2 linked regions of the Homo sapiens genome follow. The protein of the gene in region 1 interacts with the protein of each later gene in a pairwise test. Each region holds a gene or a part of one and is shown in the gene's direction. Other genes may lie near its edges.

Region 1 (5,468 bases):
GAAGAAACCTAATTTCTTTTAAATGGAACGTGTGTTATCTTTGCCTTTGTATGAGTTTGTTGTTAATAGATCAATAGTATTTTGTTACCTAGATAATGGAAATAGAAGAGCAGAAGCAAAAGCAATTGGAATTACTTGAACAAATTGAACAGCAGAAATTAAGATTAGAAACTGACTGCTTCAGGGCTCAGCTGGAAGAAGAAAAAAGAAAAAAAACTCAACCGACTGGGGTAGGATGCAGAAAATCTCATCACTACATAAATCATTTGGTAAGGGGGGCAAGAAAATATGAGCACTTGTAGCGTTTAGAAAAGTAAAATGGATGGCTGGGCGCGGTGGCTCATGCCTGTAATCTCAGCACTTTGGGTGGCCGAGACAGGCAGATCACTTCAGGTCAGGAGTTCGAGACCAGCCTGGCCAATGTGGTGAAACCCCATCTCTACTAAAAATACAAAAATTAGCTGGGCATGGTGGCACGTGCCTGTAATCCCAGCTACTCCAGAGGTTGAGGCAGGAGAATCGCTTGAACCTGGGAGGTGGAGGTTGCAGAGTGAGATTCCATCTCAAAAAAATAATAATAATAAAAGTAAAATGCCTTTGTAATTCTTATTTGGTCTTTTTTTGATATAATGTATGTATATATGAATAAATTTGCATCAGTTACGGCTTTCATCTTTCAGTTTCTATAGGATACTAATAGATACGACCATGGTTTGTAGGTAATGCGTATGTTGAGCTTTTGGACCTGCACTGAAGGAGAATGACAGATTAGTTCATTTCTTACTAATGGAAATGCCAGTCATTTTATAAAAAATAAAGCTGTATGGAAGTTTACAATTATAGAACTGTATGTAAAAATACTTCAATACTTACTTCTAAATTTGCTTTTTAATTAGTAACTTTGTCTTTTATTAGGTTGGCATTGCTCCAGCATCATGCCCTGTAATTTCTGATGAAGATAGTCATAGGCAGATGATTCGTAACTATCAACATCAGCTTTTACAACAAAACAGGTATTAGCTAGGGTATAATTTATATGTGATCGTATGTGGCTACATTTTTAGGATTTATTGTTTCATTTATATGAGGATCTAATTTGGATTTCCTTAGAATTATGGCATTTAGAACTGCCATTCTTAAAGGACAATGTGAGTGTAATTTCTTTTCACCATGAGTATTGCCAACCCTAGATTGCTGTTTGTTAAATTTAATGTATAGACATGGGGCTTTTTATTTTTCATTAAAAAACAATAATTGTTTGCTTTTGTTTTTGGTAGGTTACACAGGCAGTCTGTTGAAACAGCCAGGAAACAATTACTTGAATATCAAACTATGTTAAAAGGAAGGTGCCCATCGGTGTCAGCTCCATCATTGATAACTGATTCTGTTATATCAGTGCCATCATGGAAATCTGAGAGACCGACTGCTATATCAGAGCATTGGGATCAAGGTCAGAGACTCAAGTTGAGTCCTAACAAATACCAACCCATACAACCTATACAGACCTCCAAATTAGAACAAGATCATTTTCAGGTAGCGAGACAAAATCACTTTCCACAAAGACAGGTGGAAACAACAGAAACATTACGCGCTTCAGATATTTTAACCAATCAAGCTTTAGAATCACAAGAACATCTAAGGCAATTCTCTCAGACTGAAACACAACAGAGAGACTATAAATTGGTCCCCAAAGATTCTGAGACACTTTCAAGGGCTTTGTCACATGACAGGCAGCTAATATCACAGGATGCTAGAAAAATATCTGAAACATTTGGGGCAACAACTTTTCAAAGTTTAGAATCCCAACAATTGTTCTCAGAGAATAGTGAAAATATATCTTACCATTTAACTGAACCTTCTTCATTTGTACCACTGGTACCTCAGCATTCTTTTAGTTCTCTGCCTGTTAAAGTTGAGTCAGGAAAAATTCAAGAACCCTTTTCAGCCATGAGCAAAAGTACAGTTTCCACAAGCCATTCTATAATCAGCCAAATGCATGATAGGCCTTTGCTGCCGTCAGAGAATATCACAGCCCAGCAAGGTAATATGAAGGCCCTCCAAGAACAGTTAGACCTACAGAAGAAAGTTCTTCAGGCAACTCAGGAAGCTCAGGAACAGTTGCTTTTGTGCAAACAGAAAGAAGTGGAACAGCAAACGGGCCTCTCGGTATTCCTTCCCTTGGTAACTCCAGATTCATCTGCTTTATTGCCTTCTGCCAAAGCAGATTTGGGGAGAATCCAGGAATCTTCACCAACCAAGAATAATATTGCAGTTTCCTCAGACCATCATGTGATCTCACAACTTCAGGATAAGCGTTTGAGTCTTTCACAGCCTATCCTATCACAGCAAAATAATTTTAAATTTCTCCAAGAGCAGTTGAATATTCAGAAGGATAGCCTTCAGGCTAGGCGAGAAGCCCAGGAAGTATTGTATGTACATAAACAGAGTGAATTGGATAGAAGAGTATGTTCCGAACAGGCTGAGCCCTCTTTCCCATTTCAGGTAGCTCAGCATACATTTACTTCACTACCATCTGCTGATACAAAATCTGGAAAAATACAGGAGCAACATTCATCTAAGAGCGAGAAAGGACTTGTTTCATGCCAATCTGACATCCCCATATCTCAGGATGGGTCTTTGAGTTTCCTACAGCAGTTCCTACCTCTACATGATAGTTTGAAGTTGCTCCAAGAACAGTTGACTAAACAGAGGGATACTCTTCAGGCTAGGCATGAAGCTCAGGTGGAATTACTTTTACATAGACAAAGAGATTTGGGGGACAGTAAGTCTGGGCTGGTGAGCTCTTCATCCTCACCAGTGGTTGTTCAGCATTCAGTTGCTTCACAAGCTTCTGCTAAAGCTGAGCCTAGGAGAATTCAGGAGCTTTATTTATCTGAGAAGGAGAATGTAGGTCCCTCCTGTCATTTGATAATCCCAACATTTCAGGATAAGTCTCTTAGTTTTCCACAGCATAGCCTGGCACAGCAAGAAAATTTGACAATACTCCAAGAACAGTCACAAATACAAAGGGTAATACTTGGTGCTAAAGAAGGAACTCAGGAATTTGTACACACAGAAAGTGAATTGGAGAAAAGAATTTCTTCTGAACAGACTGGCACCTCCTCATCCCTTTCCCAGGTGGATGAATCTGAGAGATTCCAGGAATGTATATCAATCAAGAGTGACAGTACCATTCCCTTAAGCCATCCTAAGATCCCAAGATGTCAGGAAAGACTTTTGAGAGTTTCACAACATATGCTACCTCTACAAGATAATTTGGAGGAACACCAAGCATGGCTAGACACTGAGAAAGAAGCCTTTCATTTCAGCCAGAAAACCCAAGAAAATACATCTTCTGAACAAACTGGTTCATCTTCATTCATACCCCAGTTGGTACAGCTTTCATTTACTTCGTTAGCTTCAGCTGAGTCTGGCACAATCCTGGAACCTCTTTTTACAGAGAGTGAAAGTAAAATTTTTTCAAGCCACCTTCAGATCCCACAATTGCAGGATAGGCTTTTGAGGATATCGCAACTTATCCAGCCTCAACAAGATAATTTGAAGGCACTTCAAGAACAGTTAGCTACACAGAGAGAAGCCATCATTCTAGCTAGACAAGAAGCTCGGGAAGAATTACTTTTACATCAGAGTGAATGGGAGGGAAGAATATCTCCCGAGCAGGTTGACACCTCTTCCTTACCCCTAGTACCACAGCATTCATTCGCCTCATTACCTCTTAATGAATCTGAAAGAAACCAAGAACCATGTTCAATTAACAGTGATAATATAGTATCCTCAGGTCACTCAGAGATACCAACATTGCCTGATGGGCTGTTGGGTTTATCACATCTTGTTTTACCTCAACAAGATAATTTGATTGCACTTGAAGAACACTTGCATGCACAGACAGATTTCCTTCCTTCTATTGAGAAAACCCAGAAAGAATTGGTTTTGTCAAAACCATGTAAATTTGAGGAAAAGGTATCTTCTGAGCATTTTATCCAGTCTCACCATGGTGATTTGCAGGCACTTCAACAGCAGTTAGATACACAGAAGAAAGCCATTCGATCTATACAGGAAGTCCAAGAAGAATTGCTTTTGCAAAGATTAAGTGAATTGGAGAAAAGGGTATCATCTGAACAAGTTTGCTCCTCTTCATTTGTATCCCAGGTGCCTGTTGCTGACTCTGAAAGAACCCAGAAGTCTTTCCCAACCAAAAGTAATGATACTCTTCCCTCAAGTCATCGTGAGATTCCAAGATTACAGGATAGACTTTTGAGTTTATCAAAGCCTATTCTGCCTCAGCAAGATAATATGACAGCACAATTGGATGCACAAAGGGAAGTGATGTATTCTTATGAGAAACCCCAGGAAGAACTGTCTTTAAACAAACAAAGAAAGTTGAACAAAAGTGAATCTGCTGAGCATACTATCCCCTCTTTGTTTCTACCCAAGGAAACAGAGCATTCGTTTATTCCACTACCTTTTGCAGAAGCTAAACCTAAAAGCACTTGTGAATTGTATTCATCCCAGAATGAACATGCAGCCCCCCCAAGTAATCCTGTGATCCCAGGGTTTCAAGATAGACTTTTGAGTTTTTCACAGTCTGTCTTAACTCAGCAAGATAACTTGGGACTTCAGAAACAGTTGGATCTACAAAGAGAAGTTCTGCATTATAGCCAGAAAGCCCAGGAAAAATTGCTTGTACAGAGACAAACAGCATTGCAGCAGCAGATACAGAAACATGAAGAGACTTTGAAGGATTTCTTTAAAGACAGTCAGGTATGTTTTAAACCTGAATAATAATGAAACACTAGAAGTTTAAACCCAAATCAGTTTTTAATACTAGGATTACAAGTTTTCAGTTATTGAGAAAAAGTAGTTTGACCTTAACTGTGCTTTGATTTTTCACCCTAAATGATGTGGAAGTTAAAACAAAAATCGATCCACCCACATGGTGTTTATGAGGTTAATAGTTACGTGAAGTCCAATTAATTTTTTTAAATTTTCTTTTGTTTTTGCTTTTTTTTTTTTTTTTTGAGACAAGGTCTCGCTCTGTTGTCCAGGCTGGAGTAGAGTGGCACCATGTCGGCTCACTGCAACCCCTACCTCCTGGGTTTAAGTGGTTCTTGTGCCTCAGTCTCCCAAGTAGCTGGGATTACAGACATGTACCACCATGCCTGGCTAAATTTTGTATTTTTTTTTTTTTAATAGAGACAGGGTTTCCCCATGTTGCTGGGATTACAAAGTGCGGGGATTACAGGTGTGAGCCACCACACCTGACCCAAAGCTCAATTAATTTCACCTGCAAACACACCACAAAACAATGTAGATTCTTATTTTAGAGTTTTGTTTTAATGTATTTTAAGCTTACCATAAGATTTAAATTGTAAAAATAACTGGTTAGCAGAATTTCTCTTATGCAGCAACAGACATTGTGCTCTTTGTTGACATTTATATACAAATCA
Region 2 (3,500 bases), on another chromosome or scaffold:
CATACTTTTCTTTAAAACTGGTCTGAATTTATTATTAATATATCATTCCTTTATTTTTCAAGGAATCTCCTCTGATCTTCTAGTCTGACTTAGATGCTTCTATTAGGATTCTGTGCTTTCCTCGGTCATAGCACTTGTTGCAAAGTATTACACCTCTTTTAGTATCAGCTACTAGGCACCTGAAAGCTATACTTGCAATGAGTGAATGAAGAATGAGTGAAAGGGGTAATATTTCTAATAAAAGTGTGCGTTTTACTCAACAGTGACAACTGAACGCCCTGTGCAGGTTAAGGTGGTCAAAGTCAAGAAATCCGATAAGGGAGATTTCTACAAAAGGCAGATTGCATGGGCCCTTCGAGATCTTGCTGTGGTAGATGCCAAAGATGCTATCAAAGTAGGTTTTTCTCAGTTCTTTGACCTGTGTTCAGAAAGCATCTTTCATTTTATAACATGGTATTACATATTCTAAAATGATCTAAAAACAAATTAATATATATGTTTGTTTTCTTATTTTTTTGCTTTTTTTAAGCTATAATTATGTTTGTGCACAAGCTACATAAACTAGAGAAAAATTACTTTGACTGTATACATTTCTGTGTTTAGATTAAGTATAATTTGTATAAAATCTATACATAGTATGGATTTTAAAGTGGTGTGTCATGAGTTTTTTTTGCTTGTTTGTTTGTTTGTTTAATCAAAATCATATAACCAAAGTGATCCTTCCTTAGTCTTCATGAGTAAACATAGAATCACCAGCTGGGGCAGCCAGACTGGCCTTTTGAGGCCACCATGGCTTTGATGTTTGTGGATCAAAAAAAAAAAAAAAGAAATGATAGTGGGTTACATACCTTATTTTAAGGAATGTAGATAATAAGATCTATGAAGATATAAACTTACACGTTATAGATAAACCACACTCAAACTCCAAGAAAGGTGATTAATGTGATAATCACATTAAAGGACCACCTATGTTCCTGACAGTTCAAAGCTTTCACAGCAATACCCTTTTTTCAAAGCAATCAAGTTGGCCTCCTTTGATTAAATTAGGTGCTTCCTCCCCCTGGCCCTCTCTCACTCTGCCCTTCATCTTTCTCTGCAGCCCTAACACACCTCCATAGCACAAGAGAATACTTTGTACCACAACTACTTGTATGTCGATGGGATGAACATAATAGCAAGGCTTATACTAGTGAAACTACAGGTGCTCTTTGACTCTACAAATCTCATACATTTACTAAAAAGGCACAAAGTAAAAACAACAAAAAACAAAAAAACTGCCTGTGTAAAGCAATCTGTTAAAATAAAATTCTGATTTTACCCTTACTTTGGTACAAACCTCCAAGGATCAAAAATCTGGACAAAATGACAGGTAGTTGAGTTGGGTGCAAAAAAAATGAAGTAAGAACAATTTGAGGAGAGCCCTCTATATCTGTATAATTCAGATTTCTTCCAAATGTAAATCATGCCTTTTCTTTAAGTATTCTAGGCTTACTGGCCCTTTGTTTTATCCCTAAGGAGCACCCAATGCTTAGAAAAATGTGAAATGTAGAAACAGGATTTGACAGAAATTTAGAAAGCTAGAGATTGGAAAGAAAATTATAATGGGATGTTTAAAAATAATTTAGGCCAGGCGTGGTGGCTCACGCCTGTAATCCTAACACTTTGGGAGGCCGAGGCTGGTGGATTGCCTGAGCTCAGGAGTTCAAGACCAGCCTGGGTAACACAGTGAAACCCTGTCTCTACTAAAATACAAAAAATTAGCTGGGCGTGGCGGCACACGCCTGTAGTCCCAGCTTCTTGGGAGGCTGAGGCAAGAGAATTGCTTGAACCTGAGAGGCAGAGGTTGCAGTGAGCCGAGATTGCGCCACTGCACTCCAGCCTGGGCAACAGAGTGAGACTCTGTCTCCACAAAAAAAAACAAAAAAAAACTTCTGTAAGTAATTTTTATTACCATGGGGAGGGATCAAGAGTGGAAACTTTTCTGGTTGTTTTCTGTTAAGACAAAACACTTTAAGGGTTTTTAAAACTGCACCTTTATTAAAAAACATTTTTCCCTTCAGTAGTTTTGCACTTCGTAACCCTGTTGACTTGCATAATTCAGTAACATTGCTGAATGCTTATTTGAATGCATTCTCACAGCTGATGCCTCTTGCAGACTTGCTTAATGGATTTTTTTTTTTTGCATTTTATGTAGGCACCTTGGTGTGTGTATGCTATATATGGATATAAAACATAAAATTTTTATACATAACTTAACATTAGCCATTTAGTATCACACATTGATTTGTGAGTGTTGCCACTGGAGCACTCAGCTTCTTTTATGGTATTATGGGAAATATTCCCAGGGAAGAGATTATTTCCCATCAAGTTTCATATTGGTTGCCAATACTCTTGTTGTGTTTTTTTGTAAGTAATAATGCAATTACCTTTTCATTGTATATGCAGGTTTTAAATTTTTGACGCTTCAATTCTGTTTATTAAGCTATAAATTGAACTAATTAGTAGTTCCATGCTGCTGTAATATGATTGTTGTACCAAAGGTCAAGTCCTGATTCCTGAGATACTCCAGTTCTTCACAGTGAAAGTCTGATATAACTTCCCTTACTTTAATGTATTTACATTTCCCCCAAATAACACTTTAAATGAATCAAATATATTATTATTCTTTTACCCTGTAGAACATTAAGAATATTTGAGCCTATTTTTTAATTCCTTGGATGTGAAGTATACATCCATAAGTTTGTTTGTTTGTTTGTCTGCTTGTTTGTTTTGAGACAGGGTCTCACTCTGTCACCCAGGCTGGAGTGCGGTGGCACAATCTTGGCTCACTGCAGCCTCCACCTTCCGGGCTCAAGCCATCCTCCCACCTTAGCCTCCCGAGTAGCTGGGACTACACGTACATGCCACTACACCCGGCTAATTTTTGTGTTTTTTGTAGAGAAGTGTTTTGCCATGTTGCCCAGGCCAGTCTCAAATTCCTGGGTTCAAGCAATCTACCCACCTCGGCCTCCCAAAGTGCTAGGATTACAGGCGTGAGCTACCAAGCCCAGCCTGTTTTTTTATATAATAGTCAAGTAGTTCTATTCATTCAAGGGAGAAATATTAGCCTGATGTGGATTATTGCTATAATGTGGCTTAAGAGACTTGAAGAAACTATAGTGTAATTCTCTCAGATTGGTTGAGCTTCTTTATCACATGAAAGAACGTTAGGCCAGGAACAGGGCTCATGCCTGTAATTCCAGCACTTTGGGAGGCCGAAGCAGGAGGATCAACTGGATAACATGGGGAGATCTTGTCTCTACAAGAACATTTTAAAAATTAGGCATGCTGGTATGTGTCCGTGTCCCCAGCTACTCAGGAGGCTGAGGTTGGGAGGATTGCCTGAGCCCAGGAGGTGGAGGCTGCAGTGAACCATGATTGCACCACTGCATTGTAGCCTTGGCAACAAAGTGAGACCCTGTCTCAAAAAAATAAAGAACTTTGAGACCTAGCAGCACTTT

What was found.
Region 2: the proteins of CEP295 (region 1) and EXOC1 interact in a two-hybrid assay, tested with the Homo sapiens proteins (2 studies listed by BioGRID and IntAct).

The regions. Positions count from the first base shown.
Region 1 is NC_000011.10:93,695,405-93,700,872, forward strand, and holds part of CEP295 (centrosomal protein of 295 kDa), read left to right. Parts: intron 1-77; exon of another isoform or gene 78-92; coding exon 93-230; coding exon of another isoform or gene 231-269; intron 270-915; coding exon 916-1,013; intron 1,014-1,277; coding exon 1,278-4,782; intron 4,783-5,468. UniProt on the Homo sapiens protein: Centriole-enriched microtubule-binding protein involved in centriole biogenesis.
Region 2 is NC_000004.12:55,860,148-55,863,647, forward strand, and holds part of EXOC1 (exocyst complex component 1), read left to right. Parts: intron 1-263; coding exon 264-394; intron 395-3,500.